7 linked regions of the Homo sapiens genome follow. The protein of the gene in region 1 interacts with the protein of each later gene in a pairwise test. Each region holds a gene or a part of one and is shown in the gene's direction. Other genes may lie near its edges. The genes, in order: CCDC57, SHISA6, PRAM1, SPMIP6, CWF19L2, PTPN7 and GPBP1.

What was found.
Region 2: the proteins of CCDC57 (region 1) and SHISA6 interact in binary tests that used the Homo sapiens proteins (3 or more experiments, as listed by UniProt).
Region 3: the proteins of CCDC57 (region 1) and PRAM1 interact in binary tests that used the Homo sapiens proteins (3 or more experiments, as listed by UniProt).
Region 4: the proteins of CCDC57 (region 1) and SPMIP6 interact in binary tests that used the Homo sapiens proteins (3 or more experiments, as listed by UniProt).
Region 5: the proteins of CCDC57 (region 1) and CWF19L2 interact in binary tests that used the Homo sapiens proteins (3 or more experiments, as listed by UniProt).
Region 6: the proteins of CCDC57 (region 1) and PTPN7 interact in binary tests that used the Homo sapiens proteins (3 or more experiments, as listed by UniProt).
Region 7: the proteins of CCDC57 (region 1) and GPBP1 interact in binary tests that used the Homo sapiens proteins (3 or more experiments, as listed by UniProt).

The regions. Positions count from the first base shown.
Region 1 is NC_000017.11:82,171,343-82,174,842, reverse strand, and holds part of CCDC57 (coiled-coil domain-containing protein 57), read left to right. Parts: intron 1-1,982; coding exon 1,983-2,205; intron 2,206-2,989; coding exon 2,990-3,142; intron 3,143-3,500. UniProt on the Homo sapiens protein: Pleiotropic regulator of centriole duplication, mitosis, and ciliogenesis. Critical interface between centrosome and microtubule-mediated cellular processes. Centriole duplication protein required for recruitment of CEP63, CEP152, and PLK4 to the centrosome.
Region 2 is NC_000017.11:11,247,713-11,251,212, forward strand, and holds part of SHISA6 (protein shisa-6 isoform 1 precursor), read left to right. Parts: intron 1-3,500. UniProt on the Homo sapiens protein: Involved in maintenance of high-frequency synaptic transmission at hippocampal CA3-CA1 synapses.
Region 3 is NC_000019.10:8,492,641-8,496,140, reverse strand, and holds part of PRAM1 (PML-RARA-regulated adapter molecule 1), read left to right. Parts: intron 1-3,500. UniProt on the Homo sapiens protein: May be involved in myeloid differentiation. May be involved in integrin signaling in neutrophils. Binds to PtdIns(4)P.
Region 4 is NC_000009.12:34,395,011-34,399,018, reverse strand, and holds the start of SPMIP6 (sperm microtubule inner protein 6), read left to right. Parts: upstream 1-1,208; 5' UTR 1,209-1,385; coding exon 1,386-1,520; intron 1,521-2,684; exon of another isoform or gene 2,685-4,008. UniProt on the Homo sapiens protein: May participate in intramanchette transport and midpiece formation of the sperm tail. May play a potential role in somatic cell proliferation.
Region 5 is NC_000011.10:107,440,826-107,444,325, reverse strand, and holds part of CWF19L2 (CWF19-like protein 2), read left to right. Parts: intron 1-1,276; coding exon 1,277-1,387; intron 1,388-2,703; coding exon 2,704-2,823; intron 2,824-3,500.
Region 6 is NC_000001.11:202,146,516-202,150,602, reverse strand, and holds the end of PTPN7 (tyrosine-protein phosphatase non-receptor type 7), read left to right. Parts: intron 1-178; coding exon 179-292; intron 293-1,230; coding exon of another isoform or gene 1,231-1,368; intron 1,369-1,903; coding exon 1,904-1,997; 3' UTR 1,998-3,587; downstream 3,588-4,087. UniProt on the Homo sapiens protein: Protein phosphatase that acts preferentially on tyrosine-phosphorylated MAPK1. Plays a role in the regulation of T and B-lymphocyte development and signal transduction.
Region 7 is NC_000005.10:57,226,059-57,229,558, forward strand, and holds part of GPBP1 (vasculin), read left to right. Parts: intron 1-3,500. UniProt on the Homo sapiens protein: Functions as a GC-rich promoter-specific transactivating transcription factor.

The DNA.
Region 1 (3,500 bases):
GGAACTCAAAGGCAATAATTCTACAGAAGTAAAAACATGCAAGAATCAAAAGAAGCAAATGGTTACAGAGCGATAAACAATTTAAAAGACAAATGGTTACAAAAAGCAACGGTACCAGGTGCAGGGCTCTAAATCCTTCATTATAGTTAGACATAGATGCTATGCCGGACACGAACTCAAGGCTTTATGTTGTTATCTCTTTGAGAAGAATCCTGGGAACTTCAGACGTTGTTGGTGCCAGTACCTTATCAGTTAATTGGGCTCCTTTGAAATGCTGAGGATCTGCTTACACAGGTCAACTCCTTGCGGAAGGGGGTTGGGTAAGGAGCCCTTAGTGTCTTGTAAATTAAGGGGTCAGTTGGAGTTTGTCCGGCTTTCCCAGCTAGAGAGAGTCTTATTTACATGAGAAACAAGGCTAGGTGATTAAAGAGACAAACAGGGCAAAATTTAAAGTAGCGAGTTAGAGTAAAAACAGGGTTAGGCATCGCACTGTCTCCGTTTCTAAACTGCCAGTTGAGGTGCAGGTTCTGTTCGCATCCTCTCCACCCCTGAGCGCAGCGTGTGAAGCTCTCCTCCTGGGAGCCCAGGCCAGCTGGCCTTGCCAGGGAGCACGGAGGAGCCAGCGGGCAGTCAGAGCGTCCTGGGAAGGGCCCAGATCTTGCTTCAGGTTTGTGTTCATGGAGTGCAGAGTAGGGAGCAGGCTCTGCGTCCCTCAGGGTGGCTCCACAGGAGAGGAAGCTGTGCCTTTTGCACACATCTTGGCTGGACTCAAGGTTGAGTTGGGCCAGACCCTGGGACTTTGTTTCCCTCTCCCGTATCTGGGGTCTATGCTGGCGTCTGGAAGCAGGTGTTTCCTCTAATGTGTCTGGTGTTCTAGTTGTTCACAGCCGCAGGGAAAGACTCATGGCAGTGAGTCCCTCCTGGTCAGAGGCAGAAGCGCCCCTCACCTTTGGTTAGAGAAGGACACTCCCTCTCCCTAGGAACTGGGTGGGCGGGGCCTGTCTCTCCTCCTGCACCGGAGCCACCTCACCTCGTTGTCCTCCCGCCTTGGTGGCTCCTTGCGGGGTCTGTCATCCCTATGCCTGCCCTTTGACCCTAGGGTAACATGTCTCTTTTCTCGGGTTGCTTTTAGAGTTTCCATTTTGTTGCTGATTTTTCAGCAGCTTGATTATGTGCTGTTTGGTATGATTTTCTTTCTGTTTATCCTGCTTAGGGTTCACTGAGCTTCGTCATCTGTGATGTCGGCTTTCAGCTCATTTGCTTCGTCATCTGTGATGTGTGGCTTTCAGCACATTTGTAACATGTCTGGCCTTGTTGTAGACGCGTCTCCTGTCTTTGCGTTCATCTGGGCTCCTGGTTCCTTGTGCACCTTGTTCATGGTCTCCAGAGCTCTGCTCATTTTTTCTTCTTTGGCACCTTTCCTTCTGAGCTTCAGTTTGGGTATTTTCTGTTGCCAGGTGTTTATATTCACTGCCTTTTCTTCTGCGCGCTCTGAACCTGCTCTTCATCCTATTTAGTGGATGTTTGATTGTACTAAAGTATACATAACGCAAAACTGGCTGCTTTAACTATTTTTTGGTGCACACAGTTCAGCAGCATGAAGCGCATTCACACGGAGGTGCAGCCATCACACCACCCTCTCCAGAACATTCTCATCTTTCCATACTGAAGCTCTGTCCCCAAGAAACACTGGCTCCCCCTCCCCGCCCACAGCCCCAGCACCCCCATTCCACTTTCTGCCTCTGTGGATTGGACACTCTAGGGATCTCAAAAGTATGAAAGGCTCCAGGAATTTGAGTGTCATATTTGCACTTCTGTCAGAAAGGAGGGGCATCACAGCCTGGGGATGGGGAGGGACCACAGCCCAAGCTGAAGCGGGGGACCGGCCCGAGAGGGGCGCGGGGAGAGCGGAGGCACAGCCTGTCAGGACAAGCTGGGGAACCATTCATCTTTTTGTAGCCATTTTTCCTTGTATTTGACAGATGCTTCTCAGGCAGCATGAAGAAGAAATAAGTAAAGACTTTCCATCCAGTGAGATCCAGCGGCTCCGAGAGCAGAACACGAGCTTGCGAAACGCGATTGCCCAGATGAGGAAAGAAATGGAGGCTCTAAGCCATCAGATTCCTCCTCCCATCCAGACAGCGGCAGAGAGCACAGATGCAAACCAGCCTGACCCAGAGGCTGGGGGAGATGCCGCCACTCCTGGTGAGTAAGTGGGAGAAACGGACAGAGCGGGAGAGGAAGGGGGAGAGGGAGGGAGGAGGACAGACGGGAGCATGGGTCTTGACTGGCTTCAAGGAGGCTTCATTTCAGAGTCCTATAAGTTAACATCCCCTGTAATAAACTCAAAGTATGAAAACTGCTTTTTCTCCAAGAGAAGGGATCTTAAGTTTTATACCAAAAAGCTTTTATATTTGTAAAGTGGAAGGAAAAAATGAGGGTACCTGCTTGACACACTTAAAAACCTGTTTTAGACCTGGACCAGGGCTGGCTTGCTGTCGCGCTGTCCCAGAATGGGTTGGTAGCAGGGGCTGGTGGACCTCAGTCCTTTCCTCCAGAGGAGCGTCTGTGGCAGAGCTGATGAGGGCCTCCCGACCCCCAGGGACCCCATGAGTGGCTGTGGGTGGGCAGATGCCGGGATGGAGGCAGAGCTTCCGTTCTCGAGATGGGACTTGGCCCCTCTGCACAGAGGCACGTGGGCTGGCGGCAGGTGGAGCATTTGCTCCTGATCACTGAGCCCTTCCTGGAGAGCATGGAGACTGTGCTGGTCTCTGGCTGGCACACTCTGGCCAGTGAGGGGAGGGAAGGTCTTTCAGTCTGACACACACAGAGAGTGTGGAAACTACGGTGAAGCTGTAGTGTGAGGAGGACAGGGACAGTGAAGCTGGCGGGCATGAGCTGGCATCGGCTCCCTGAGCTGGTGCTCACAGGAGGGAGGTGCGAAAGGATGCTGTGTATGTGTTATATTCACTGGAGGTTTTTTTGGCAGATTATGTTCTGGCCCTTGAAGCAGAAATACGAACTCTAAAGCATAAGTTTAAAACTCTGGAAAAGCATCTAGAAGATGTGTTGGATCCTTTAAAGATGTCCTCACCTCATGCTGAGTCTCAGCCCAGCGTCCGCACCTCGACAGAGACGACTGGTAAGTCCGCGTCTCAGTGGGGTACTTGCTGTCCCCTTATAAACTGAAATCTGACCCCTGCAAAAGTCCGCTCATAGCAAATATACAGCTCAAGGCTACTGCAGACGTTGGGGCGGCGTCATCCAGCCCAGCAGCCCCTTGTGCTCCCTCCAGAGCCCACGTGCCCTGGCTCCTCACTGCAGTCAGCGTTCCCTGTTTTGGTGTGAATGGAATTCCTTGTGCTCCCTCCGGAGCCCACGTGCCCTGGCTCCTCACTGCAGTCAGCGTTCCCTGTTTTGGTGTGAATGGAATTCCTTGTGCTCCCTCCAGAGCCCACGTGCCCTGGCTCCTCACTGCAGTCAGCCCTCCCTGTTTTGGT
Region 2 (3,500 bases), about 71 Mb from region 1:
GAAACTCCACCCCATTATTTCTTCCTGAGTTACGTTTATGACCTCACCTCTTTGGCGTCTTTCTTTTTTTTTTTTTTTTTGAGATGGAGTCTTGCTTGGTGGCCCAAGCTGGAGTGCAGTGGCACAATGTCTGCTCACTGCAACTTCCGCCTCCCTGGTTTGAGCTATTCTCCTGCCTCAGCCTCCCAAGTAGCTAGGACTACAGGCGCCCGCCACCACACCTGGCTAATTTTTTGTATTTTTAGTAGAGACAGCGTTTCACCATGTTAGCCAGAATGGTCTCGATCTCCTGACCTCATGCTCTGCCCACCTCTGCCTCCCAAAGTGCTGGGATTACAGGTGTGAGACACGGAGCCTGGCCTCTAGTGTCTTTCTTTGCAGATATTGTAGAGAGATAAGAGGCCTGGGTACAAGGGTTACCAGTGAATCCTCAGAGGGTCTCAGTCCCTTGAACTCAACCCTTGAGCAAGCTTAATTTTAAAACAATTCAGGATACATTGCTAACTCTATTTTTTTTAATCTCTCGAAGTGAAACCAGAACTTCTGAAAAAGCAGGGTAGTACATTCTATTCTTTTGTCATCTATTACAGAATTATAACGTTTTCATTGCAGGCAATTCATTTAATCTCGTTACCTAGTTTTACAAGTGAGGCAACTGAAATTCAGAGAGGCTAGGTCACAGTGCCAAGGAGCCCAGCTAGTGGGTGGGTGAGCTTGGAGGTTAAGCCAGGGCGCCTGTGTTCTAGCGCTCAGACTCATCTCATTCAATGAAAATATATTCTGCTTCTTTACTCTTTGCACGTTCCTTGGTTAGTCATCACCAAATAACTTTGGGATCCTTAGAGATGTGAGTTACAGCCTTCTCCTTTCTCTTTCTTTCCTACGTTTCTGTACCCCTCCTGGTTCACTGTTTCCACTGAATGTCTCCACTAAAATGATTTCTGTCGATCTTCCCCGCTCCTTTTGCAGTTTTTTCACGTTCCTTTCTTAAGGGCAATAACCTAATCTAAGCATAATCCTTTTATAAGGTCTGAGTAATGCGGACTATTGAAGAAGGAAAATAACAGCACAACCAAAGAGTTGTGGACTGGGGCAAAAAGTCACCGAATGAAACTGTGGGCAGAAATCTGTCATTAAAAATTCAGGGCCAGGCACAGTGGCTCACGCCTGTAATCCCAGCACTTTGGGAGGCCGAGGCGGGCAGATCACGAGGTCAGGAGATCGAGACCATCCCGGCTAACACGGTGAAACCTCGTCTCTACTAAAAATACAAAAAATTAGCCGGGCTTGGTGGCGGCGCCTGTAGTCCCAGCTACTTGGGAGACTGAGGCAGGAGAATGGCGTGAACCTGGGAGGTGGAGCTTGCAGTGAGCCGAGATCGCGCCACTGCACTCCAGCCTGGGCAACAGAGCGAGACTCCGTCTCAAAAAAAAAAAAAAAAAAAAAATTCAGACTGTGAATGCTTTCTCTCTCTCTCCCAGAGATGAGTGGAAATGCTGAATGCTGAGACCTACCGGATCAATGCAGTTCAGCTCTGTGAGAGGCCAGAGACCTCCCGCCATCCAGTGGCCGTGTGTGTGTGTGTGCGCGTGCGTGTGTGTGGACGTGTGTGTGCGTGTGTATATGTGTGTGTGATTTCAGGGTTATCTTCTGGGTTGGCCCCCTGCATAGAATATAGCTCTGCAAGCCACGGAAGCTCATTCATAGACGCCAGTTTTGCCCTTTCTCAGCTCTGGGCCCAGATACTGCAGGCTAATCAAGCTGGAAATCTGGGCTTAATCATTATGTGAAAATAACCTCTGTGGCATGCAGTTTGGGGGTTTTCCCTGTAATGTGCTTGATACTTCCTTTGAAAGAACCTGGTTGTACATACCTTAATGTGTCACCCTTCCAAGCAGTCACCTTGGGAGGCCGCATGCTGATTTTTCTGCAGAAAATGTTTCCACGGTCCCTCTCTTGAAAGTACATTGAGAGCCCATGGCATGTCATTTTGACTTTATATAAGGGTAACATATTTTAATTTTCCTAGGGTTGATTTGATTCTTGTAAGCAATGGTAAGTCATGGGGCTGAGTCTGATGAATGAGATAGGTGATCAGAAATCAAGAGTGCCTCCAGTAATGAGACTTGCTCTCCTAGGAGCCGTGTCAGCTGTCTCTGAAGGCAGGAGCCCAGAAGAGGCATTTCAGAAAGGAGTGAATGGCAGCTCTGCACAGGAGTGCCTGGCAATCCACGATGATCATTTTGAAGAGGACACTCCTCATGAGGAACGACAATTATTGGCCTTAAGAAAATCAGTTTTATGCTTTATCCGTGTGTCAGGCAGGTGGTGGAGGTCCTAAGAGAGAGGGAGAAAAAGGAGTTGAGTCTGCAGCAAGCATTTCACATGGAACTGCTCAGAAAGGGTGAAAAAGTGCACGTCCCATATTTCTGCATGAGATAGTAGACAGTTAGCTTAATTTAGCTTCCTAGTTTGATACTGAGGGTAAAAGGACCCAGTTTTACGGGATGTATGCAGTGAGGCTCGGGGTCAGAGCCAGAGTGTTCACTGTGCCTTCCCTTCTTTCTATCCCAGGGCTGTCGCCTCTGTACTTCTGCATTCAGACGGGGTCACCAGCTGGGCCAGACTGCCTTAGATGATGTAGAAATATTTGCAAGCCCAGGAAGATAAGGCTGCCAGTGAGCACTGCTGATCAATTCCTAATGTGCATTTATCACCACTCGCTCCACCCCCAAATGTCCATTCAGTGGATGAATTGATCACCGAAATGGAGCGAGGGTGGGGCAGGCTGAGTGTAAAGGCAGGTGACAAGGGTTACCAGACTCAGTGTCTGCAGGCAGGGAAGCCATGGCTGTGCTACCTGGGTAGAATGGCATTCCTTCATCTCAGTCAGGATTTAGGGGTTGGTAAAGGGCTGGGCATTTGTACTGCCCCCATGCATAGGCCGGGGCAGAGCCTCTGGTCCTGATGACCCTCTAAAGGCCATTGTTGGGCATTCTGGAGGAGTCAGTCTTGCTGTGAGCCTGGGGAGTCCCTCTTAACTCTGCTCACGTGTCAGGACAGTGGGAGCTCTGTGTCCCAGGAGCTTACACAACCCCATCACTCATGCAAGCCCACAAGCCAGAGTTGGAGAGAACTGGAGATCTCGGTGAGATGAAGACTCAAGGAAGTGGAGAGGATGGTAGAGAGATACTCATAAGAGTGCCGGGTCTCGAGGGCTTACTCTGTACCAGCATCCAGCTTGCACCTAACCTGCATTATCTCGCTGCATCCTCCCATCATCCCGTCTGAGTGTAGGGGCCCATGTTGTAGATGAGGAAACCGATTCAGAGAGGCTTAGTAACTTGCCCAAGGTCACACAGCTAGTACATTGCTGGTGCCCTTCTCTCTCTCAAGTCCAGTAGAACAGTTGGGTCTCACCTTCCTGAATGTAATGGAGTCAGTGATACTCAGATTACTTAAGAAAGCAAAGACCTACCTTCCCATGCCCTGGGACTGGT
Region 3 (3,500 bases), on another chromosome or scaffold:
CCCAGCCTGATTTACTTAGACCTGTTGTGTTCAAGGTAGCTGAGGGGATGTCCAGGCAGAACTTGGGCCTGAAACTCAGGGGGAGGTGTGGCCTGCAGGCAGGTGTGGCAGTGGCAGGGGAGGGAGGCTGCCAAAGGTTTCTTAGAAGTTTGTGCTGGGTGAATAGGGAGCAGGCCCGCACCTCCTGCCCAGCTCCACAGTTAATGCCTTCATGAAAACACAAGCAGCTTCCAGGCAAGCACCTTGCCTGCCTGTCCCTAAATCTGTACCCTCCACTCCCTGCATGTCCCTAAATCTGTCCTTAAATCCGTACCCTCCACTCCAAAGTTAATGCCTTCATGAAAACACAAGCAGCTTCCAGGGAAGCACCTTGCCTGCCTGTCCCTAAATCTGTACGCTCCACTCCCTGCATGTCCCTAAATCTGTCCTTAAATCCGTCCTTAAATCCGTACCCTCCACTCCAAAGTTAATGCCTTCATGAAAACACAAGCAGCTTCCAGGCAAGCACCTTGCCTGCCTGTCCCTAAATCCGTACCCTCCACTCCCAAATCCCCACAGGGCAGTAAGGCAATGCACCCCCATTTTACAGATGCACAAGGCTGGCCCGGCGTGGCAGCTCACACCTGTCATCCCAGCAGTTTGGGAGGTCCGGTGGGCGGATCACTTGAGGTCAGGAGTTCCAGACCAGCCTGGCCCGCATGGCAAAAACCCATCTCTACTAAAAATAAAAAAACTAGCTGGGGCCGGGCGTGGTGGCTCACGCCTGTAATCCCAGCACTTTGGGAGGCCGAGGCGGGTGGATCACCTGAGGTCAGGAGTTCGAGACCAGCCTGAACAACATGGAGAAACCCCATCTCTACTAAAAATACAAAAATTCGCCAGGTGTGGTGGTGCGTGCCTGTAGTCCCAGCTACTAGAGAAGCTGAGGCAGGAGAATCGCGTGAACCTGGGAAGGAAGGGTTGCAGTGAGCCAAGATCACGCCATTGGACTCCAGCTTGGGCGACAGAGTGAGACTCAATCTCAAAAAAAAAAATGAGTCGGGCATGGTGGCATGCACCTGTCATCCCAGCTATTCGGAAGGCTGAGGTGGGAGAATTCCTTGAACCCGGGAGGTGGAGGTTGCAGTGAGCTGACATCGCGCCGCTGCACTCCAGCCTGGGTGACAGAGTGAGACTCTGTGTCTGTCTCAGTTGAAAAAAAAAAAAAAGGCCAGGCGCAGTGGCTCACGCCTGTAATCCCAGCACTTTGGGAGGCCAAGGCGGGTGGATTGCCTGATGTCAAGAGTTCAAGACCAGCCTGGCCAACATAGTGAAAACCTGTCTCTACTAAAAATACAAAAAATTAGCTGGGTGTGGTAGCAGGCGCCTGTAATCCCAGCTACTTGGGAGGCTGAGGCAGGAGAATCGCTTGAACCTGGGAGGCAGGGGTTGCAGTAAGCTGAGATCCTGCCATTGCACTCCAGCCTGGGTGACAGAGTGAGACTCCATCTCAAAAAAAAAAAAAGAAAAAAAAATAGGTACGCAAGGTTGAGGCTCTGGGATGGGGCTTGCCCTGGCTTGCACAGCTGGTCCACGAGCTGGATCTGTGGCAGGGCTTTCAGCGGGGGCCAGAGCTTGAGCTTCTAAGGTGCTCCTGCTCTCGCTGACAGCCTCAGAGGGCCTGGGGCAGAGAGGCCCCCTCTGCTTCTCCTGGGCTTTCTCCCTGAGCTTCTTGCAACACCTCCCTGTGAGCACACAGCTTCCTGGTGGGGCCCCTTCTGCTTCCGCTCTAGGGGAGGCTCTGTGGCTTGGGTCTGGGGGCCACCGTTGGGGATGCGGATGGCCAGGAGTGGGGCTGCTGAGCGCCTGGGCTAGTGACAGCCTGCCTCCAACCACTCCCAGAAGCCCTGCTGGAATCCCCCACCTCTTCCGAGGCTAGGAGCATCTGCCTCTCCTCAAACTTCATACAGTCCCCACCCTTGGCCCATTGTTCCTGTCACCAAATAACCTTCTCCCCCTTCCTTGCCAGTCATTTGAGGTTCTGATAGGAAAAAAGAAAAAAGGGGCCGGGCGCGGTGGCTCATGCCTAAAATCCCAGTTCTTTGGGAGGTGGAGGCAGGCGGATCAGTTGAGGTTGGGAGTTCGAGACCAGCCTGGCCAACATGGTGAAACCCCGTCTCTACTAAAAATACAAAAATTAGTTGGACATGGTGTTGCACACCTGTAGTCCCAGCTTCTGGGGAGGCTGAGGTGGGAGGATCGCTTGAATCCAGGAGATGGAGGCTGCAATGAGCCGAGATTGCACCTCTGCACTCCAGCCTGGGCAACAGAACGAGACCCTGTCTCAAGAAAAAAAGAAAAAAAAAAAGGTCCCACTTCCCTGGATCTCCCGCTTCTCAGGAGTGGCGTGGGCTTCTCACTGTGGGTGCAGCTTCTCAAAGGCAGCTTAGGTCTCTTGGGGCCAGGACTCTGGACTCCCCTTTCCCACTGTCTGCCTTACTTGGAGCAGTGGCAGCTCCACTGCAGAGGTTCCTGGAAGGCAGGGGGCTCCTCTGCAGGTGGGGAGAGCCCAGCCTTTCCCAGGGATCTGAGCTGGCCATGCGGGGAAGGCGGGCAGAGGCCTGCTCTGGGTCAGCTGTGGATGAACCAGGGCTGCCTGCATGGCGGTGCCAAGAGGTGCTCTAATGTGGCGGGTTTGCAGGGACCCTGGAGTGCCAAGGTCAGGTTCGCTCCTGGTGGAGTGACTGCTCACGGCCAGGGAAGCCTCTGAGAGGCAGGAGCAGCTGGAGGGGCTGTGTGTTCCAGGTGAGACTGTGGATGGCCATGCCTGGTATCTGGCGGGCACGATTCAGGTGCTGCTCCTTGGGCTGCTTGGAGGGACTACAGGCCTGAAATGTCCGGCGGGATACTTTGAGCCATTCGGAAAGGACATGCTGGGGCTCTGGGTTCTGGATCTTTCACTCACCAGGGTTCCTGGGGCTCCCACCTGAAGCCAATTCCTTGGCCAGCAGGGCTCTGACTTGGGAGCCTGGTCATTTGCCAGGAAGTGGCACAGGGAGACTGGCACCATGGGAGACCCCTCAGTCCAGAGTCTCATCATCAGTCACCAGTCCAGGACGCTTACCCTAGCAGCATCTTTTAAAAATTATTTTTATTTACTATTTTGAGACAGGGTCCTGGTCTGTCGCCCAGGCTGGAGTGCAGCGGCGCCATCTTGACTCACTGCAACCTCCAGCTCCCAGGTTCCGGCGATTCTCCTGCCTCAGCCTCCTGAGTAGCTGGCATTATGGGCGCCCACCACCACACCCGTCTAATTTTTGTATTTTTAGTAGAGACAGGGTTTCACCATGTTGGCCAGGCTGCTGTCAAACTCCTGACCTCAAGTGATCTGCCCGACTTGGCCTCCCAAAGTGCTGGGATGACAGGCATGAGCCACCATGCCTGGCCATGATATTTTACTGTCAACTATCATTGCCCTCCTGTGCAATGGAACACCCAATTTCTTCTTCCTAACTGTAACT
Region 4 (4,008 bases), on another chromosome or scaffold:
CATACCCAGGAACTGCCAGCTCCAAAATATTGGGGTACAGCTCACCACCCCCCACTCCGCCAACCCATTCCTACCTCCTCTAGTGCAGGGACCCAAGTTAGATGATGAGAAAATGCCAAACAAAGGGAGGCAAGGACAGAGAAGGTACCTGCAGGACCCACAAGGCCCATACTGGCCCCCATCTGAACCCACCTCTCCCACCCAGATCAACATCCCCCCAACCCCTGTGCCCCCATCATCTGGACCCCAGAGCCAGCCCTCCCACTACCACCACCACCACCCCGGGGCTCCTTGGCTCACCTTTCTAGAACATGGGTACCTCCTCTTTTTGGGGGCTCATTTAGACTGCTGCCTTTGCTGCTGACTTGCAGTGTGACTCGGGCCCATTGTTCAATCTCTGTGGCCCTGAGACACCAGGGAAAATCTCCCCCCCCACAGGACATACTAGTTCCCTGGCAGGCAAGGGCTTCCAACTGAGGCAGTGCATGTGTGGCAGAGAGAGGCAGGAAGCTGGCAGTGGCAGCTTCTGTGTCTAGGGAGGGGTGTGGCTCCCTCCTTCCCTGTCTGGGAGGTTGGAGGGAAGAATCTAGGCCTTAGCTTGCCCTCCTGCCACCCTTCCCCTTGTAGATACTGCCTTAACACTCCCTCCTCTCTCAGCTGTGGCTGCCACCCAGCCAGGTTTCTCCGTGCTCACTAATTTATTTCCAGGAAGGTGTGTGGAAGACATGAGCCGTGTATAATATTTTTTTTAACATTTTCATTGCAGTATTGACCATCATCCTTGGTTGTGTATCGTGTAACACAAATAATGATATTAAAAGCATCAAACAAGCCAGCCTCAGCTCCCTCCCTGGGGTGTGGGCAAGGGGCAGATGGGCTGGGAAGCAGACAGAACTGGTCCTCTGGGCACACATGTTACTCCACCTCCACCTGTGGGTTCCCAGGCATGCCACTGACCTGCTGCATGACCCTGGGTGAGTCACAACCCCTCCGAACCTCTGTTTCTCTTCAACAGTGAGAAACCTGACCTAGAAGATCTCCAGAGGCCCTCTGAACTCTTAGAAATTGGGCTCTTTTGATAGGCTTGAGGCAGGAGGGGGTCAGGAGCAGGGAGGGAATTAGACCTCCTCACCTTCCCAGGGATGGGGCTGAGCCAGGTGATATCACAATGGGCAGTGCCCATCCTGGAGGGGGCATCAGTGTGGGGTGGGAGCAGGAAGGCTGTTGGGGAAGGAAGCTGAGAGATCCTCTGCAGGAGGGGATTATAGCAGCTAAGGGCACCTGCCAGGCTGGAGGTGTGGCCTGTCTAGGGGAAGGGTGGTCACTGATGTCCAGCAGGAGCCCTTGACAGGTAGAGCCCACCACGGCATCTCCAAGACCACACCATGTTCCTGTTCTCCCGTAAGACCAGGACCCCTATCAGTACCTACAGTGACTCCTACAGGGCTCCCACCTCCATCAAGGAGGTCTATAAGGACCCACCCCTGTGTGCCTGGGAAGCCAACAAGTTTCTGACTCCGGTAAGTGGGAGATTGGTGGGGAGGGGCAGGCCAGAGTGTATGGCCAGTCTGGATGCCTGGCAATGTATGTTTGTAATGATTTGTAGCTTTGTGTATGTGTGTGTTTTATTCATTTACCTAGGCACAGAATTTACAATGGTATGTAAAACAGCACAAAATCCTGCCTTCATGGAATTACATTAGGGTAGGAGGTAGGAACAGGCAGATAATAAGAAATAAACATGAGTTTTATAAATTCTTCAAAAATACTGTAAAGGAAATAAACAGAGTAGTGGAAGTGGAAATGGAAAGGGAGGGCTACTTAGGTCATGGAAAACCCTCTCTCAAGGTGACAATAAACTGAGACTGGAAAGATGAGATAGAACTAGCCACATGAAGACCTGAAAGAATAGAAGAGCTGAAAGTTCCAGACAAGTGATCACAAAGTGCAAAGGCCCTGAGGCTGCCTGTGGAATAGGCCGGAAACTGTCCTATATGCATGCCTTTATCTATATGTATCACAGTTTACTTGTGTCTGTGCTTGAAGATTGGTGGCCAGGTGGGAGGAAATCTGTGAGTCTAACTGTGACTCTGCCTAAGAGAATTTATCTGTGTGTACCATCCAACTTTGCTGAGTATCTTCATCTGTAGGCAACCCAGGATACAAAAGGGAAGGGCCAGCCCTTGCCTTTGAGGAGCTCACAGCAAACAAGTGAACAAAGTAGAGTTGCCCGATGTGGAACATGCACCAGCAGAGGTGGAGAGCCAGAAAGGGGAGAGCGCTGCCCAACCTGAAGGGCAGACCTACTGAGGGATCCAGGAGGAGGAGGCTTCCAGCAGAAGACAGTCAGGAGAAAAGGCAGCCTGTGGGCAGGGACCTACCAGAAACTGAAACTGTTAGAGCAGGAGAGTTTAGTCCTTGGGTGAGAGAGGAGTCTGCAGACCAAGAAGGGCCTCTCTGGCTATGTTGTGGAGCGTGGACATAAGGCTCCAGGTTTTTGAACCTGGGAGGGAGAGTCATGGTTCAATTGTGAGTTAGGCCACTCTGGCCACAGTGTCAGGGAATTGCAGGGGCTGGGGTTGAGGGCAGGAAGGCCAGCGAGGGGTGAACAGATGAGGAAGGAGGATGTAGGTGGGAGATAAGGAGATTGTCACAATGAAAAAAGGAATTCGTTGAATAGGAGAGAATTTTTAAAATAATTTATTTTGTCTAACTCCAAAATAAATATACGCTGAATGTAGAAAATGCAGATAACTCAGAGAAGCACAAAGAAAAAAGGTCTAAAATCCTACTACCTAAAATTACCATTGTTAATATATTATCGTATGCCCTTTCAGGAAGCAAATATTGTTTATTATAAAAATAAATAAAATTTATTACAAAATGGTGTATTTAAGGAATCTTATTGAAAATTTAGGTACTTTATAAAATTTTGCTAGTATAATCATTCTTATACATGTATCTTTGTACACATTTCCAATTATTCCCTTAGGATAAATTACTAGACATGAAATTGTTAGGAGAAAAGATATACACATTTTTAAAACTTTTGCTATATACCTCAAATTGCCATAATAAGTAAGGGTTGTAACAATTTACATTTCCACAAGCAAAATATGAGAGTGCCTGACTCCATACTCAATAGAAGGGAATTTTAAAAAGTAGATGAACAGATTTTGGTCACCATATGGATGGTAAGGTGAGAGATTAGGGTGACCCTTGAGTTTTTGGCTGTGGCAGCTGGAGGAATGCTAATGCTATCAACTGAGGTTTGGAATAACAGATTAGAGATTTGGAGTTCATTTGAGAACAAAAATATTTGAGGATATCCAGGAAAAGATGTTTGGCAAGTAGTTAGATATACTTATCTGAAGCAAAGGAAAGAGGTCTGGGTTATAGATAGAGATCTTGAAGTCATCATCATATAAATGGTGGGTGAAGTCATAGGAAGAGATGAAATTGCCAAAGAAGAGAGAGAAAATGGCCAAGGACATAACTTTGGAGAATATAAATATTTAAGGGTAGGTAAAGGAAAAAAAGCCATAAAAGAAGACAGAGAATTATTGCCAGAGAACTAGGAGGAAAATCAAAGATAAACCAATAAAGACAGCATTATTAGACAAAGATCAGTGTCAAGTGTTAGTGACAGAGAAATCTCTCGGATGTAGTAACTCTTGGTAACTTAGCCAGACAGCTTCAATGAATGGCGAGGAGTGAAAGTCAGATAGCAGTGGTATTAAGAATGAAGGAAAAGCCAGGCATGGTGTCTCAGGCCAGTAATCCAAGCACTTTGGGAGGTTGAAGCAGACAGGAAGATTGCTTGAGCCTACGAGTTCAAGACCAGCCTGGGCATCATGGTGAAATCCTGTCTCTACCAAAAATACAAAGATTAGCCAGGTGCAGTGGCATGTGCCCATAGTCCCAGCTACTCGGGAGGCTGAGATAGAATCACTTGAGCCCAGGAGGTTGAGGCTGCAGTGAGCCTTGATCACACCACTTTACTCCAGC
Region 5 (3,500 bases), on another chromosome or scaffold:
TGGAAGCCACTGGTGAGTTTGGAGAAGTTTCAGTAGATTAATGGGGACAGTAGATGTATTGTAGAGTTTTGAGAAAATGTATGAAAGTGAGAGTGTGAAGGCGGTGCATGTAGACTACTCTTTCAAGAAGTTCATCTGAGAATGGAAGCCGGAAGATTAATTCCTGCTAGAGGAGGAATATACGGGGTCAAGGAAGGTCCCCCTTCCCTCCTTAAAAAAAAAAAAAAAAGGGTGGGAAATGCTTGAAATTGTTTCTAGGCCATTAGGGATCTTTGGTTAATGCCGTGAGAGGAGAAGATAATTGATGGAGCAAGGTCCTGGAGGAACAGAAAGAGTTATCAAAATCTTTAGAGCAAGATCTGCCTTAAATAGGAGGAGTTAACTGGAAATAAGGATAGGCACAGCCATAAATGTTTTGGGCGGTGGGTAGGAGGATAAGGTGGCCCTAGTTTTCTTGATGAGGTAAAAGAAGACATCATTTGCTGAGAATATGGGAATTGGTATAAAGCTTCAGGAGGGTGTTGAAGAAGATAATGTTATCTGCAGTTTTAGATCAAGGGAAATCTCAAAATGTGAAACTTAGGGGCAAACAGCAAATTCGTTTACCTGGGTGGTGTTTCCCCTGTTCTAGTGAAGCAGAGATGTGAGTAACTACTTGACGTTGGTAGTCACTGAAGCTCTGTGCTGAAGTGAGGTCTCTACTTGGCAGTTCCCATTTTTGTTTTTTTGCCTTCTCTTGGCTTGATAATAAATGGATGAGAAAATAAAAATAATTTGGTTGTGTTTGGTGGGCTTAACTCAAACTAGTGGGTTTATATGTTTTTTCTTTAAAAAAATTTTTTTTTTTGAGACGGAGTCTCTGTGGCCCAGGTTGGAGTGCAGTGGTGTGATCTTAGCTCACTGCAACCTCTGCCTCCTGGGTACAAGCGATTCTCCTGCCTTAGCCTCCTGAGCAGCTGGGATTACAGGCATGCGCCACCACGCTTGGCTAACTTTTTTGTATTTTTAGTAGAGATGGTGTTTCACCATGTTTGCCAGGCTGGTCTTGTACTCCTGACCTCAAGTAATATGCCTGCCTCAGCCTCCCAAAGTGCTGAGATTACAGGTGTGAGCCACCACACCCAGCTCTTTAAAATTTCATTGCCATTTTGTAAAGGGGAAATACAGTGTAAGAATTTTTTTCTACGATGTTGAATTTCTACCACTTAACAGCACAGAATTTTTATATCAAAGTATGCAAATTTGACAATTTCACTTATATGCTAAATGTTCTTAGAGCTCTGAAGATGAGTGGGTTGAGGCTGTTCCATCCCAGACTCCTGACAAGGAAAAAGCCTGGAAAGTGAAAGATGAAAAGTCAGGAAAAGATGACACCCAAATTATCAAGGTAAGCAAGCCACTTGATTTTCCTTCCTTGCTTTCTTCCTTCCTTCCTTCCTTCCTCCCTCCCTCCCTCCTTCCCTCTCTATCCCTCCCTCCCTCTCTGTCCCTCTCTCCCTCCCTCCCCCTCCCTCCCTCCCTCCCTCCCTCCCTTCCTTCCTTCCTTCCTTCCTTCCTTCCTTCCTTCCTTCCTTCCTTCCTTCCTTCCTTTCTTTCTTTCTCTTTCTCTCTCTCTCTCTCTTTCTCTCTTTCATTCATTTTAGAGACAGGGTCTCACTCTGTTGCCCAGGCTGGGCCGCAGTGGCACAATCAGAGCTCTCTGCACCCTCGACCTCCCAAGCTCGAGTAATCCTCCCACCTCGACCTCCCTGGTAGCTGGGACCACAGTTGTGTGCCCACCACGCCTGGCTAATTTTTTTATTTTGTGTAGAGTTGGGGTCTCCCTATGTTGCCTAGACTGGGTCTCAAACTCCTGAGCTTGAGCAATCCTTCCACCTCAGCCTCCCAAAGTGCTAGAATTAGAGACGTGAGCCACTGCACCTGGCCTATCACTTGGTTTTAAAGAAAAAAGTATCAACTTTTGAGAATAAATGAATATGAAAATGAAAGATGATTAAAATTTCTTCAGGAGAACAATTAGACTTTGAAAACAATATACTTTAGGAATAATTTTGGCAGTACTGCTGTTTGCTGAATGTTTAGAACCCCCTTCCCCTTCTACTGTGAGAAAGTGAGTGTTCCTCTCTATTCTCGTTCCTTAGAGGCTTTCATGCTTTTGATTGTTGATAAGAAGTGGCACTTTCCCCTTATGTCCCTAAAGCCTTATACTGTATCTCTGTCTGACCCTTCTATAGTGAGTGGAGTTCCATCACAGTTTTTTTTCCCTTCACCTCATGCCTTAATTTTCTTAACAATACTTAACAGTTGAATAGTTCAAAAATTTTGGGCTATAGTTCATCTGCCTCAGGAAGAATGTAATTTGTCCACTGTTAGCCACAGGTGAAGGAAGAAAGGTGAACAGGAACTAAGTTTGATTGCTTGTTGTGTGCCAGGCTTTGGGCTGGATGCTTTAGATCTGTTATCTTGTTTACTCTTTAAAACAATCCTGAAAGGTAGGGATTTTATACCATTTTATAGAGGAGAGACTAAAGTATAGAGAGATTTAGAAGCTTGCTTCAAGTTATATAGCCATGTAGGACTTGTTTCAGGTTTGATTGCCTCCAAAGTCCCTGCTCTTATTACCAAGTGTTTATTAAATTCTAATCAGTTCAGATTGAAATGATGAGTGGATGACTGTTGATTTTATGTCTTTTTTTTTAACAGAGGGATGAGTGGATGACTGTTGATTTTATGTCTGTTAAAACTGTGTCATCATCATCACTCAAAGCTGAAAAGGAAACTATGAGGAAAATAGAGCAAGAGAAAAACCAAGCGCTTGAACAGGTAAGAGAATATTTGAAATGCTTTAACTTTCTAATTTACCTTTAATAAACTTACAAGACATTTATATAAATGCAGTTTAACTTGTAAAATACCATTTTATTTTTTATAGTATTTAATACAATTAGTGAGAACAACTATGAAATACATCAGTTTAAGAAAAATAAATTTCCTATAGGAAGTGAGTTTAAAGGTTTACTAGATTTATAAATCTAGGGCATATATAAAGTTGAGTGAATATTGAGTTTAATATCATTAAATTGAAAGTGAACTCACTCAATTTTTGTTTCAGTGTACATACTGAATTAGACACCATGAAAATACTTCCATTTCAAGACATCTAGAAATTCTGGTGGATATAATGTAAAATAAGCATGCTTATTTTATACTTTATTGTTGTCACTTTGCTAGTAAGGAAGCAATAGGAAATCTGTAGAGACCAAAAAATGAGGCAAAAGCATGAATCCAGAGAAGTAAGGAAGTGCTGAAGCTGATGACTTTCCTAGGGGCATCACACAATCCTGGTAATCTGGAATTCCAATTTATACTGTACCAGGAGCATATGTTTCTTTTCCAGTACTCAGTATCTGTAATTGTCAAACTTTATATATTTTTTTATCAGCCTAATAAATGGGTGAGAAATGGTATTTCATTGTTTTTGTTCGCATTTATCTGATTGC
Region 6 (4,087 bases), on another chromosome or scaffold:
CCAGCAGGGCCCCCAAGGGGACTGGAAAGCAGAGTACTGCTACCTGCCTCCATCTCCAGAGCCCTATCCCCAAAATATAGCACCTGCAGGTCCCATTTCTTTCTCCATAGTTTGGGGCCTGGCTCTCATATTCCCTGGTCTCCCATGACCTCCCTGTCCCCTCCCTGGCTATCTCCAGTGCAGGGATTGGCCGGACGGGCTGCTTCATCGCCACGCGAATTGGCTGTCAACAGCTGAAAGCCCGAGGAGAAGTGGACATTCTGGGTATTGTGTGCCAACTGCGGCTAGACAGGTGGGTCTGTGGGTGTAAACAAGGCCAACAACGTTAACGGATGGCATCAGTGCCTCTGGGCCCCAGAGTTCTGCTAGGCCCATCACCATCAAGCACTCCTGCAAGAAAGGAAGAAACCCTTTCTGCTTAGAGCTGTTTATTTTACAACTAACAACCAGGAAAAAATATCTATCTGGATGGCCGGGTGCGGTGGCTCACACCTGTAATCCCAGCACTTTGGGAGGCTGAGGCGGGTGGATCACCTGAGCCCAGGAGTTCGAGACCAGCCTGGCCAACATGGTGTAAACCCTGTCTCTACTAAAAATACAAAAATTAGCCAGGCCTGGTGCGGGCCCCTGTGATCCCAGCTACTCAGGAGGCTGAGGCAGGACAATTGCTTGAACCCAGGAGGTGGAGATTGCAGTGAGCCGAGATTGTGCCATCGCACTGCAGCCTGGGTGACAGAGCAAGACTCTGACTCAAAAAAAAAAAAAAAAAAAAACAAAAAAAAGAATATCTGTCTGGAATGTTGGCTTGGATGCCTGGAATTAAACATGATATGAGGCAGCAACAAGTAGTGCAAAGAAGATCACTGGGTGGAGGCAGAGCCGGTGTTCAGATTCTGACATCTGTCTCACTGAGATGTCACTAGATTTCTCTGAGCCCCCATTTCTTTTTTTTTCTTTCTTCTTTTTTTAATAATAGAGATGGGGGTCTCACTATGTTGCCCAGACTAGTCTCGAACTCCTGGGCTCAACAATGCCCACTTGGCTTTGCAAAGTGCTGGGATTACAGGCTTAAGCCACTGTGCCCAGCCCCCACTTCTTCTTTATCTAGACAGAGATAATGGCTCCTTCCCCCAGAAAACTGTTGTAAGAAATGAGTTAACTTATATGAAAATGTTTTGGAAATGGAAACTACTATACAAATGTATGGAATCATTATTTTTACTTTTTAAGATTATTAGAAAGAAGGAAACTTGAGGCTCAGGAGTATTCCTGGCCCGACCCAAGGCTTCAGAGATCTGGTTTTGTCCCAGGAGCTGAGTGGATCAAGGAAGACCAAGTGTCAACATGGGGCATCACCCCTCAGCACGTGTAAGGGGCAGAGGACTTCTCTCACAGCAGATCTGAGGGGCAGCAATGAGGAGTAGAAAGTAGAAAAGATGAATATAGGTGGTGGGGCATGGTGGCTCATGTCTGCAATCCAAGCAGTTTGGGAGGCCAAGATGGGCCAATCACTTGAGGTCAGGAGTTCAAGACCACCCTGGCAACATGGTGAAACCCTGTTTCTACTAAAAATACAAAAATTAGCTGGGCAAGGTGGCAGGCACTTGTAGTCCTAGCTACTCAGGAGATTGAGGCAGGAGAATCACTTGAACCTGGGAGGCAGAGGTTGCAGTGAGCTGAGATCATACCACTGCTCTCCAGCCTGGCTATCAGAGTGAGACTCTGTCTCACAAAAAAAAAAAAAAAAAAAAAAAAGTGAAAAGATGAATATAGGCAAAGGAGTTGGCATGTTCTTTGAGAAAGTCAGGACTTTCCCAGTAGGACCACAGGGATGTTTGACTGGAGCCATTCAGCCAGCACCCTGACCCTCCTTCACTCATGGTCTGTGTGTTTCTCCTTGCAGAGGGGGGATGATCCAGACGGCAGAGCAGTACCAGTTCCTGCACCACACTTTGGCCCTGTATGCAGGCCAGCTGCCTGAGGAACCCAGCCCCTGACCCCTGCCACCCTCCGGTGGCCCAGGTGCCTACCTCCCTCAAGCCTGGGAAGGTGGGTCTGGGGAAAGTGGGCCGAGTGATCTGGGGGTACCCCTTGGGTTGGTGTGGGGAAGGAGTGCCTCCTTAGTGGTGCTTGCAGTCACAGGAAGCAGCAGCAGTAAGGACAAGGGGCCGGATTCCAGGTCTTCAACACTGGCCACTCCTCTGCTTCCTCTGTTGGCCCCAGATGGACAGTAAGGGGAACCTCCAATGTCTCTCTGAACTTAAAGACAGGAGCTGGCATTTATGACAGACAAAGAAAGAAGCCCAGGTGTCCTGGTGTTCTCTGAGACACTCTTTGTGAGCTTCAGTTTCCTGTTCTATAACATGAACATAAGTGCTTAGCTGCCATGAGGGAAAAGTAATGAGAGAAGTTTCTAGAAGCCACTCCAGCCACTCCTTCCTGGGGCTGACAAAAGGGTGATTCCAAGATCATCCTTCACCCGAGGTCCTGCCCAAGCACAGGCCAGATGCAAGAATGGGGAAAAGTCTGGTCCTGATCTCCAAGTCTCAACATCCTATCAGTGACTCTGCTCCCTGACCACACATCGGAAGGGCTGGATGACCCCAATCAAAAGAAAGAACAAGGACTCTGGTTACCCTTGCCTCCACCCATGTGTCATAAGAGTAGGCTACAGAGGTGACCAGGCCTGGCAGTTGAAATCTCTGGAAGAGGGAACATGTGGGGACTACTCAGAGGCAAAGAGGAGCTGCTCCTGCCTCCATGGTTGCTGGCCACTCCCACCAACTACTCTTAGGGAGGCTAAGCAGTCTCTGTTTTGCTTCCATGGCTCAAATAATACCCTGGGTATGCAGGACCCACTATACCTTGCATTTGCTGAGTACACCTAGAGAGCTTGGCTGTTTCCAAAAACAATCAGGGTCATAACCATCCATGCAGACATGGAGGCTCGGCTGAACCAGGACTCCTCACTGTCTACCTGAGAGAATGAGCACCCCTCATCCATCTCAGCATCAACACAATTTCCAGGGGACCTCAGGTCTACCTCAGGACTGAACGCCACACCTCAGGATTCCTCCTCCTTGAATCTGAGACTGGCTGCCCATTCTGAGATGGGGATGAAGGTAAGATGCCGCATCACCAGGCACGCCGCCCCTGACAGCTGCCTTGATACCAGCTCTCTGTGGAAACCCCCGAGGAGTTGGATCTGGAGAACAGCTGGGCCTCCTCACTCAGGACTTCTCTCCTGAAGAACACGCAGTGCTAAAACTGAGGATGATTTCCCTAATGCTTCTGCTTGGCCTTATGGAGGAGCTGCTCCTTCCTTACAGCCTTGGGGATGGACTTGCCCACACCTCCACCTCCCCTGAGCCCTGTGAGAGGCACGACTGTCTATGCCAATGAGGCTCGGTGGGGGGCTCTCAAGTGCCTGATCCTGCCCTGGGCTCAGAGCCAGCCCAGAGGGAAGCAACTGCACAGCCCCACAGGCCCTCCCTGGCACTGTCCCCCCAACCCCATCTCAGAGCTCAGAGGGTACAAGCTCCAGAACAGTAACCAAGTGGGAAAATAAAGACTTCTTGGATGACTGACTCATTCCTTCTTTCCATCTTCTTCTTGGCCCTCTGGGGCCTCTTTGTAGCAAGAGAGAAAGACTGCAGACCAGGGACAGGCAGGCTGCAAATCTTTGCCCTTGGGATATGCACTTTTCTAGCACTTCCAAGGACATAAAGTAAGGTGAAACCAAAGTCAATTTAGGAAGTGAGACAGGGTGGACCCTCATAGCCTACCCAGGCAGCTGTAACAATTCACACTACCGTAAACCATGTGGCTTCTAAACAACAGAAATGTATTGCTGGCCTGGCGTGGTGGCTCATGCCTGTAATCCCAGCACTTTGGGAGGCCGAGGCAGGCGGATCACGAGGTCAGGAGATCCAGCTAACACAGTGAAACGCTGTCTCTACTAAAAATACAAAAAATTAGCCGGACGTGGTAGCACACACCTGTAGTCAGCTATTCGGGAGGCTGAGGCAGAAGAATTGTTTGAACCCTGGAGGTGGAGGGTGCAGTGAGCTATCATGCCACTGCACTC
Region 7 (3,500 bases), on another chromosome or scaffold:
AACAGATCTTGGAGTGACCTGTGTCCCTTGGGGTGGTTGGTTTTTATGTGAGAGAATGAGATACAGGACATCTCTCTATTGACAATGAGGGGTAACTTTTGGCCCATTTGTTGCCCTTGTAATTGTTAATGAAAGACACCAACAGTCAGGTCGGTTTAAATTCCTGTTAATGAACTGTAATGGATAATCATGGCCTTAGACCATATCCTGGCAAAATTACTTATTGGTGGTTCCCAACCTCCACCAGCGTTCCTCCTTCCAGGGTTTATTCAGTTGGCTGGGTCCTGACCTCACTTGAGATGTTGATAATAGACTTAATTAAATGCTGTATAAGACCAGTTAAATGAATTTTGTTCTAGTCTCTGTCAGGAAGATTAATATGAGTTACTAACAGTGGAATAATAATGGGAAAATTCAAATTCAGCCAAGAATGTATAGGGCTGATGGGTAGATCATTGAGAGAGGCAATTCATCCTGGGCTCTGAGCATTTTTGCTTTTTTTTTTTTTTTTTTTTTTTTGAGATTGAGTCTTGCTCTGTCACTCAGGCTGGAGTGCAGTGGCGCGATCTCAGCTCACTGCAGCCTCCGCCTGCTGGGTTCAGGCAGTTCTCATACTTCAAGTCACTGGGATTACAGGTGTGCGCCACCAAGCCTGGCTAATTTTTGTATTCTTTTTTTTTTTTTTTTTTTTTTTTTTTTGAGACAGAATTTCGCTCTATTGCCCAGGCTAGAGTGCAGTGGTGCGATCTCTGCTCACTGCAAGCTCCGCCTCCTGAGTTCATGCCATTCTCCTGCCTCAGTCTCCCAAGTAGCTGGGACTGCAGGTGCCCGCCACCGCGCCTGACTAATTTTTTGTATTTTTAGTAGAGACGGGGTTTCACCATGTTAGCCAGGATGATCTCGATCTCCTGACCTCGTGATCCTCCTGCCTTGGCCTCCCAAAGTGCTAGGATTACAGGCGTGAGCCACCGTGCCCGGCCTGTATTCTTTTGAAATTATTTTTTAACTTTTGGAGGTGGAGTCTCGCTCTGTTGCTCAGGCTGGAGTGCAGTGGTGCAATCTTGGCTGACCGCAACCTCCACCTCCCAGGTTCAAGCAGTTCTCCTACCTCAGCCTCCTGAATAGCTGGGATTACAGGCACCCACCACCATACCCAGCTAATTTTTGTACTTTTAGTGAATTTAGTGTATTTAGTGAGCCGTTTCACCATTTTGGCCAGGCTCGTCTCAAACTCCTGACCTCAGGTGATCTGCCCACCTCACCCTCCCAGAGTACTGGGATTACAGGCATGAGCCACCACACCTGGCCTAATTTTTGTAGAGATGGAGTTTCACTGTATTGACCAGGCTAGTCTCAAGCTCCTGACCTCAAGTGATCCACCTGCCTCAGCCTCCCAAATTGCCGGGATTATGGCCATGAGACACTGCACCCAGTCCCCTACACGTTCTTGCTTGTATGCCAAGAATGCAAAATCTTGACTACACTTTGCATGGGCCGTTTCTTGGTTGTTTGCAGTAAGCAACATTGAGGGACAAAGACCAAGCTCTTTATATATGTGGTTGATTTGCCAAACTCAGTGCAAGGGCAGCATCCACCTGGGCCCCTCCCTGTCAATCCCCAAAGGTCTTAGGGGGCTGTACAGAACCAGTGCCAACATCACGCTTATGCTGCTTGCTGTACCATGAGTAATAAAGTCTTTGTCTCATGTCTTTTGCCAGCATCCATGAAACAGTATCCAGGCTAGCTTGTTAGCTTGCACAGATGGTAACATCCCAGACTCTTGAAAGACTCTGACATATAGCCAGCATAGTAAAATATGAGTAAGAAATAACAGGTAACAGGACTAAAGGGCAAGATAGAAAACTGGTATTATTTATGAACAGTAACTGTCCGTATAAAAAAATCCCAACAGACATGCTACAAAGTATGAATTAAGGTTACTAGAAATAAAGTTGCTAGATAAAAGACTAATACAAGATAGAATTGTAAGTGCAACAAAGACTTAAGGCTTTAAAAAATATTTAAAATAGTAACAAGTACCCTGTTTAATTACTTCTTTATATGTTTAAATACTTCATTAAAACCACCTATATAGTCTTTTTAGAATATCAAAGCTAGCTGGGCGTGGTGGCTTACACGTGTAATCTCAGCACTTTGAGAGCCCAAGGCGGGCAGATCACAAGGTCAGGAGTTCGAGACCAGCCTGGCCAATATGGTGAAACCCCATCTCTACTGAAAGTACAAAAATTAGCCAGGTGTGGTGGTGGCCACCTGTAGTCCCAGCTACTTGGGAGGCTGAGGCAGGAGAATCATTTGAACCTGGGAGACGGAGGTTGCAGTGAGCTGAGATTGCACCATTGCACTCCAGCCTGGGTGACAGAGCGAGACTCTGTCTCAAAAAAAAAAAAAGTCTGCATCTATATCTGTATCTCAAAGCTGGGTGCAGTGGTGCATGCCTGTAGTCCCGGCTGCTCAGGAGGCTGAGGCAGGAGCATCACTTGAGGCCAGGAGTTCAAGTCTGGCTTGGGCATATAGATCTGTCTCTAAGGGGGAAAAAGATCCCCTCCATTCTTTATTTTACTCAGATTTCAGCGGGGGAAATTTTTTTAAGGAAATTAAAAAAAATAAGCTGTAGAAAAATATTTGCAGTATAAATGGCATCTGCTCAGTTCTGGGGCATAATACAAAAAAATTTTTAAAATGCTATAAGGTGCTAGGATAAATCTATTGAAATACATGCAAGACTGAAAAAAAAAAACTAACCATAAAGACTTAAAAGATGACAAATATAAGTATAGATATACATGTGCATTTCCCTCCCTACTGAGAGAAGTAAGCAAGCATATATGTATGTGTATGTTTTCTAACCCAGTAATGAATAATTGTCTGGGCTGAGTGCAGTGGCTCACTCCTATAATCCCAGCACTTTGGGAGGCCAAGGCAGGTGGATCACTTGAAGTCAGGAGTTGAAGACCAGCCTGGCCAATAATGATCAAACCCCGTTTCTACTAAAAATATAAAAATTAACCGGTTGTGGTGGTGGGTGCCTGTAATCCCAGCTGCTCACGAGGCTGAGGCAGGAGAATCGCTGGAACCCAGGAGGTGAAGGTTGCAGTGAGCCAAGATCGTGCCACTGCACCCCAGCCTGGGCGACAGAACAAGACTCCATCTCAAAAAAAAAAAAAAAAAAAAAAAAAAAAAAAAAAAAAGGAGTTGTCTGTCTTCTCAACCCTTACTGTCATTATATATTGGCCAATGGGCAAGAGGTGCCAGCTTTGTTCTAATCTTGCATTTTGATTACAAGAGAACCTGGCTATGTTTTCATGTGATTTGTGGCTCTTTAATTTTTGAGAACTGGCTTTTTGCTCATGTTTTCCCCATTAGGTTGTCCTTATTTGTATTGATTTATAGAGCTCTATTTTCCTTTCCTTTCCTTTTCCTTTTTCCTTTTTCTTTCTCTTTCCCTTTCCCTTTCCTTTTCTTTTTTTGATGGAGTCTTA